2 linked regions of the Homo sapiens genome follow. The protein of the gene in region 2 purifies or fractionates together with the protein of the main gene of each other region. This does not show direct contact. Each region holds a gene or a part of one and is shown on either strand. Other genes may lie near its edges. The genes, in order: IL36A and SMIM12.

What was found.
Region 1: the proteins of SMIM12 (region 2) and IL36A purify together in Homo sapiens (affinity purification with mass spectrometry; one large-scale study listed by BioGRID and IntAct). This does not show direct contact.

Annotation. Positions count from the first base shown.
Region 1 is NC_000002.12:113,003,771-113,007,688, reverse strand, and holds the start of IL36A (interleukin-36 alpha), read right to left. Parts: upstream 2,231-3,918; 5' UTR 1,818-2,230; coding exon 1,808-1,817; intron 1,716-1,807; coding exon 1,602-1,715; intron 1,092-1,601; coding exon 952-1,091; intron 1-951. UniProt on the Homo sapiens protein: Cytokine that binds to and signals through the IL1RL2/IL-36R receptor which in turn activates NF-kappa-B and MAPK signaling pathways in target cells linked to a pro-inflammatory response.
Region 2 is NC_000001.11:34,849,782-34,853,543, reverse strand, and holds the end of SMIM12 (small integral membrane protein 12), read left to right. Parts: 3' UTR 1-3,182; downstream 3,183-3,762.

The sequences.
Region 1 (3,918 bases), on a different chromosome or scaffold from region 2:
GAAAATCATATAAATTAAATTCTTTTAAGATTATGGTTGAAACTCAGGCTACAAATTTTAATGGTTTTTAATGTGAGGCTCTGAAAAATGTGTTGACATGAAAGTTTTTGAGAATACAAAGCATTGATTGGGCCATTATTTGTTGTTCAGAAACAGAAACTTAAAGAATATTTATGTAACAGTTACTGTAAATTTCAAATTAAAACAGTTATTTTCTGTCAGGTTTCTGCACCTTCAGCACTATTGACATTTTAGGCAAGATGATTCTTTGTTTTCAGGGTCTGTCCTGTATAATAATATAGGATGTTTAGTAGCATCCCTGTCATCTACCCGATAAATGCAAGTATCACACCCCCATCCCAGGTTGTCACAACCAAAACATCTCCAGACATTGACAAATGTCCCTGGAGCAATATCACCCCTGGCTGAAAAACACTGTTTTATATCTTGTCATCAAGTTGAGTGTCTGCTTATGCTTGTTTACTGAAAAGGGTCAAGAGAGTTCCTGTAGTACACAGAGGCCTGCTATAATTATCTTTTTTTAATAATGGAAAATTGCGATTATTGAAGTGTTTATTACAGAGAATTATGTTTGTTCATTTAAAGTTGCAATGTATTTTTTGCCAAAAAGATGTTTTAATAAGTTCGTCTACTTTGTGATAATTAACTGCTAAAATGTCCTTGCTGATTTTACTCTGTGTGTGTGTTCTATTGAAGTTAGACATCATCCTTGCCAAATTATTAATATTTTTGTAAATTAAAATAATAAGTCATTTTAGTAGGTTTGTTTCAAAATGTCCCTGCAATTTTTCTTAGTCTTTCATAACATATACCAACCCCAAGGAAACCAAAAATAAAAATGCATGAGCATAATAAGTACATTGTCTTTTAAAAGATCCTGAAATCTGAGTTTCCATCAAATAAATGGCAGGACCTGTCTTCCACACTCACCTTCAGCTGCAGTGTGGGCTGGTCCCCGACTTTAGCACACATCAGGCAGAGATTGAGTCCATTCAGGCCCAGGTAGATGGGGTTCCCTCTGTCTTTCTCAAGGGTCTCCACATGTCGGCATGAGATTAAGGCAATAGTGACTGGGAACACGATGTGAAAAGTGGTGTTCAGCTGCCATTTCCAGGGTGGTACCTCTGAGCCAGAGTTTTAAGGGAATCTGCTAACTGACACTCACAGTGCACTCATAGAATGGTCACCTCACCACCCACCACCTAACCGGGACACCCATCCTATGTTTGGGGAACACTTTCCATTAGAAAAGTCAGTCTTTCATGGATTCAAAAACTGGTCCTCCCATAGATTACCCTCTTTTGTCCTACTCTTACTCCTTGAAGTTTCTCAGAATACGTCTTCCACTGTTTTTCATAGGCTGACCCTTCAGTCTCCCTTAAGCCTTCTCTCTCTTCTCTGACTTCATGACCATAGTCCCAGAACAACCTTATGCTCACCCTCTATTCATTATTGTCTGTGAGATGCTCCTCTCTGTAGATATGCCCGGTTAACAAGCCCACTGTGGAATAACATCTGAGCACCAAACACACAACAGCACTGGCCAAAGGAGCTGCCTTTCACAGACCGTGGCTACTCACCTGGAGACATACGGTCCTTCCTCGGGACTGCTATGAGCGTCTGGTCCTGAAGAACCCACACCCGATGATTGATATCCTGAATGCTCCCCTGCTGAGGTGTGTCAATTTTCAATGCTGTTGAGAAAGTCAAAATGTAAATTAGTAAGAATGAGAGCACAGAATATCACCCCCTTGTCAATTTTTCGCCCTTCCACGAGGATCTTTACCTTTTTCCATTGTGGTGGTGTTGTTTCAGAACTGCCAAGGATAGGAGTCCTTTTATGTGCAGACCGACCCCAAGAGAGGACCTGAGTCAGTCCCAAGCCACAGTTTAACCCTGGGTCAGATGAAAGACTGGCGGCCAGCCCAGCAGTGACCCCAGTCAGAATCTATACTCCCAGAACTCACCCAGCACCCTTACTTTGTTGGATGCAGTCTACCTCCAGCAGAAGCAGCTGCACCTATGAATCCTGCCCAGGCCTAGACCCAGGAACTCTAATATGACAAAGAGTGCCAAGGCCAAAGACCTGGAAGCAAAAAAAATCAGAGGTCACCAGACTTTCCAGCATAGGCCACACTGATAATCTGTTACGAAGGACCCTGTATCCCTACCATTATGAACAATGGCTTCTACTGCACTTGGGTTTTCTGACAGGCTGTAACAGGGCCCAGGCCTTTTATCCACATGGGCAAGGAAGGAAGTTCTGCCTCACTAAGTCTGGCACTGCCCAACACTCAGGATATTTTCTAGTTCCTGATGCCAGAGGATTTAGTGACTCTTTATGTGAACAGCATGGTTAAGACTTCTCCAAGCAACCTGAAACATGAGGGCATGCTAAACTTTTAAGAGCAGGAAATATAGTCACAGATACTGAGTTGAGAAACATTACGGGACTTCTTCCGGGTCAATGACTCATCTCTGATGCCACAAAATGAAACGATGGAATTATTCCTAAGAGTGGGAGCCCTCAGTAAGTGCAAGGTAGACTGAGGAGGGATAGGTCTCTTAAGACCTCTGTAGCTTCTAATCACTCCTGGTCCACAGGAACTATATTCTTGGTCAATTTCAGACCAGAAGCCCACTCACTCCAGTGACCCTCCTCCAGCTTCTCAGAGCCACTGTGCATGCTGCTTCTCCATGGAAGAAGGGAGTATTACTGTAGCAAAGCCAGCTCCTGAGCACTCTAGCCACCTCAATGGACTCTAGATCACTATCTCTAGTATAGGTAGCGTGATAGTAAATTTTAAGTGTCAATTTGACTGGTTTAAGGAATACTTAAAGAACTGGTAATACATTAGTTTGGGGTAAGTCTATGAGGGTGTTTCCAAAGAAGATTGGTGTGTAAGTCAGTGTACTAGTGGGGAACATCTACCCTCAACGTAGGTGGGATCCATCCAACTGGCCGGGGGCATGGATGGCATGGAAAAGACAGAGAAAAGGTGATTTTCTGTCTCTCCTGGAGCTGGGGCATTCTCTCCTGCCTTTGGACATTATAACTCCAGACTTTGGACTCCAGGACTTAATATCAGCATCTCCCTGGGTTCTCAGGCTTTCTATCCCAAAGTGAGAATTACACCAGTGGCTTCCTAGTTCTGAGGCTTTAGGACTTGAACTGAGCATGTTACCTGCATCCCAGGGTCTCCAGCTTGCAGGTGGTCTGTCATGGGATTTCTCAGCCTCCAAAATTGCATGAGTTCATTCCCCTAATAAATCCCCTTTCATACAAGAGGTCATCAAAAAGTTCATGGAAAATGCATATTATGAAAAAAACTATGCATGGATTTTGAATTATTTTGCACCAAAATAAACTCCTACTAACTTGTTATAAGGTGTTTGAACAGGATCTAGTTTGAGGCACTAAGAAAGGTAAGACATCAGTTTGAAAAGAGCCCCTATAAGATCAACATGAATTCTTCTAAAATTGAAGCAAGAACAAAAATCAAATTTATGGTGAAACTTGGGTGGAAGAATGGTGAAATCATTGATGGCTTATAAAAAGTTTGTGGGGACAATGACCCAAAGAAATCAGCAGTTTACAATGGATAACTCATTTTAAGAAGTGAGACAATATTGAAAATAGCACCTGCAGCAGCAGACCATCCACATCACTTTGCAAGGAAAAAACTAATCTTTTTGTGCCCTAGTTGAAGAGGACTGAATATTAACAGCAGAAATGATAGCCAATATCATAGACATCTTAATTGGTTCAGCTTACACAATTATGACTAAAAAACTTAAAGTTGAAGCACAATGGCTCATGTCTGTAATCCCAGAACTTTGGGAGGCCGAGGCAGGCAGATCACCTGAGGTCAGGAGTTCAAGACCAGCCTGGCCAAC
Region 2 (3,762 bases):
TGGAATAAACAGTAAAAATAGTAAATGTCATTTTGGATGAAATGGGATAAATGAGCAGTTTTGAGGATCTCATGCATAACACCAAATGTCTTTCCAAAAGGGCTCTAGGAGTTTCTACTAAATCTTACCACTGAAGACGTTGCTGGTAAGGCTGTGAGGGGAGTAAAAGCAGAGAGCAGGAAGAAGCATAAGAAGCTGTTGCCTCTTGAAGCCTACTGATGTTTAACTAAAGTCAGCACAGGGCAGTAGTGAGCATTTGATGAATTGATCTGCCTCTAAAAGGGAGTGGGTATTGGCCCTGCTTCTTAGGTTCTCTCTCGTGAGGCCTGATGGTGTCCACAGGTGGGTGAGGGTGGAGTTCCTGAACAGTTAGAGGGGCCAGCTGTGAAGAGGTGCCAGCTGGAGGTGCCTTCCAGGACCTGGTGGTGGCCTGAGAGGAGGGAGCAGGTTGAGTCGTTGGCTTCTTCTAAGGCTCCCTGAGGCCTAGTGGGAATGCGGAAATGAGCTGCTGTTGCTTCCCAGGGAACAAATCGGATGGAACTTGGGAAGAGACTGTCAGCTACCAAGTAAGGAGATTTCTGGTTCTGGCTGCAGGTTCTGGCTGATGAGCAGGCCTTATCGGCACACCAGTGCTGCCACCCTATGGCAGTCCTGGGCATTACCAAGCCTGCAGTCACTTCCCTGGGCTAAACCAAACACTAGTGCTGACAGAGGTCAGGTGACAAATGAGCCACCACGCTGGCAGAAAGTATAGACCTGCCGAAAGGGGGCAGTGGTGACTCACCTTCCAATCTGCTGCTCATCCAGTGGTACCAGATTTTTGAATTTTTCTAAAAGATGTTCTAAGAGCTCCAGAGGGGGTAAAAAAAAAAAAATGAAGAGATGCTAGAAATTCAGGGTTTTTTGGTGTGTGTAACCTTCTGATTTTCAAGTGTTGATAATTCATTATACAAAATTCTAAGCATGCTATCATACCCGTGGGGTTAATTTGACCCAGTGGCTGCCAATTTGTGACCTCTCAAACTGCCTCCTCCTTCTGATGACACCTATAATTATGGTTTTTTTTTTTTTTTTTTTTTTGGCGATCTAACAACTTGTTACAAATATTAGATCCCAGAATTGGTTTCCCTCAAAACACTTTTGGGCATCCTGTACAAAGGCAGCTTAATAACCTAAGAAAAATGTGAGGATGGAAAGCCTACAGAAATAATAGCAAACACATTTCCCATGGACATTTTTGGATTTTCAGATCTTTTAAAATATCCCTGTCACCACCCGTTGGCCTCCACTTGGTGTCTGGTCGAGAGAGCCCTATCTTTGGGAATCCAGGTGGCTCCCTTCTTCCAGTCTCACTTTGATTGTGCCCCCTTTTAAATTCTTTTCTTTCCTTTCCAAGGGCACTTTGTCACTGAATTCTTCCTCTAGCAAGTCTATTAGTGTTCTCAGCTAGATCTTTCTTTCCCACAGGCTGGCTGAAATCAGCCGTTGCGGTGGCTGTAAGATAGTATATGTGCTCTTGCCTCTGCTCGGGTGACATTAGATAGCAAGGTTTATGTGGACGTGGGTATAGACAGGTCAGGGTTGCTGGGATGAACCAAGGTGCAGACCGGTTTTCTTCCATGCTTGCTGATTCACCTTGGAGGCATGTGACCCTCTTTTTGACTGGCCTTCCAGTCACAGTTCACTGAAACACATGAGTGAGTGGATGTGCTTGGGGCTTTTTGCTCCCCGCTTACCCCCGTCTCTTCCCAGCCCAATGATGGTGGTGGCTTTAGTATAGGGTCCTCTCCGAGCACGGCAGGAATCACTTCTCTCCCTGCAGCGGTTCAGTGTCTGGTGCTTTTCCACTCTTTCTAGACTCTTTCCTGTGCCTGTTGCTGTGTTAGCACAAGTCGGCTGGGCAGCTGCCAGAACAAGCCTGCCAGGGAGCCTTTTGACTCTGGTCAGCTCCCCAGGGCTCCAGGCTGGTGGGACTGCCGCTGAGTGAAACATCATGGAATTAGCCTTGCCAGAGTCTGGGTTGGGAGCCAGGCAGTGAAAATGTAAAAGCCCCTCCGTCTTGCTCACTTTTCCTTTTCTACTTTGCTTTAGATCTCTAAGCACTTGTAGGGTAGGGAGCCAGGGCAGTGTAGCAGAGGAAAAATAAAGTGGATTCTAGAGTCTGACAGGCTCGAGTTATGAATACTGCCTTAACAATTAACTGGATGACCTTGGGCAAGTCACTTAGCCCTTCTGAACCTCAATATCCTCACCTGTAAAATAGGGGTAAGAATTTTTGTTGGGTTGTTGTGAGGATGAGGTAATTATGTAAGGTTCTTAGCATAGTACGCTAAGAACTTTATATACATTGTCACAGACTGTGCTAAAACTTTACATACATTACCTCATCCTCACAACAACCAGTAGGTACTCAGTAAATGTTAGCAGCTTTAATTGTATTGCAGGAAGAACCTATGTTTCCTGCAATAGTTGTGTGTATCCTTGTGACCCTGGTGAGGTGGGGATCTAGGGGAGAGAGCAGCCTTGGCTGAGGGACAACAGGGACCCTCATAGACCTGGTGGTTGAGGGCTGCTTAGAAATATTTCACAGAGAGAACTGGCTTGCATAAGAACCAAGAAGCACAAGCTGGTCAGGAGATTGCAGGCTCCACACCTGCCTTAGTGGTAGTTCCATCAGTGCAGTCTGCAAAGTCAGAGGGAAGCAGATTGGCCAGAATGCCCAGGAGGTCACAGATCAGGAGAATTGGGAGGGGAAAGAGCCTTGGACTTGGAGGCAAGCGATCTGAGTGATGACCTGGGGTATGCCGCTTCACCTCTACTGGCCTTGGTTTCCCTGCAAAATGGGGAACGTGTTCCCTGCTGATCGTGTGAAAAGAGTGAGACAACCAGTTTAGAGTGCTCTGAAAACATGCAAGTGCTAGATATTACAGCCCAGTAAAACCTCCTTTATCTAGTTGGGATGGCAGCCAGTCTGAATAATAAAATACAAATACATGTGCTATTATTTCTTTCCTGTACAGAGCGTATTTTATAGTATTTGCTAAGTAGAAGTCTTTAGGGGAATCAGTTTGAAGAGTGAAGAGTAATTAGTAACCGGTGTATCAGTTTTCATCCTGTTCCAGCAGTGCCTCTGGTACTTAAAAAACAGTTTATTCTTTTTGAATTAAACTTGTTAACATCAATTATGTGTTAATCAGATCCTTTTTACATAATACAAAAGTAAACTCTGGCTTTGTTTTTTGTTAAAAAATGCCTAATGGGCCCTTCTAATTATTCAGATTTAAAAAAATCTTTACTAGCGCCCCAGCAAGGGCACCTTTTCCATGTAGAAGAATCCAAAGTCCTTAGGGCCCTTATTCCCTCTCTCACTGCCCAGTTTCTTCACTTCCAACCCCTGCTGCAATTCCGTTTCTCCTTCTCTGAGCCTAAGCTGCTAAGTGCAGCTGGAGTAATTTGCATAACCATCTCGCCCGGCCCTCTTCCTTCATGGGTTGTGGATGCAACAGAGTCTGCAACACTTCAAGGTAATTTTTTTTTTTTTTTTTTTTTTTTTTTTTTTTGAGACGGAGTCTCGCTTTGTCACCCAGGCTGGAGTGCAGTGACAGGATCTCAGCTCACTGTAAGCTCCGCCTCCTGGGTTCACACCATTCTCCTGCCTCAGCCTCCCGAGTAGCTGGGACTACAGGCGTCCGCCACCATGCCTGGCTAATTTTTTGTACTTTTTTAGTAGAGACGGGGTTTCACCACGTTAGCCAGGATGGT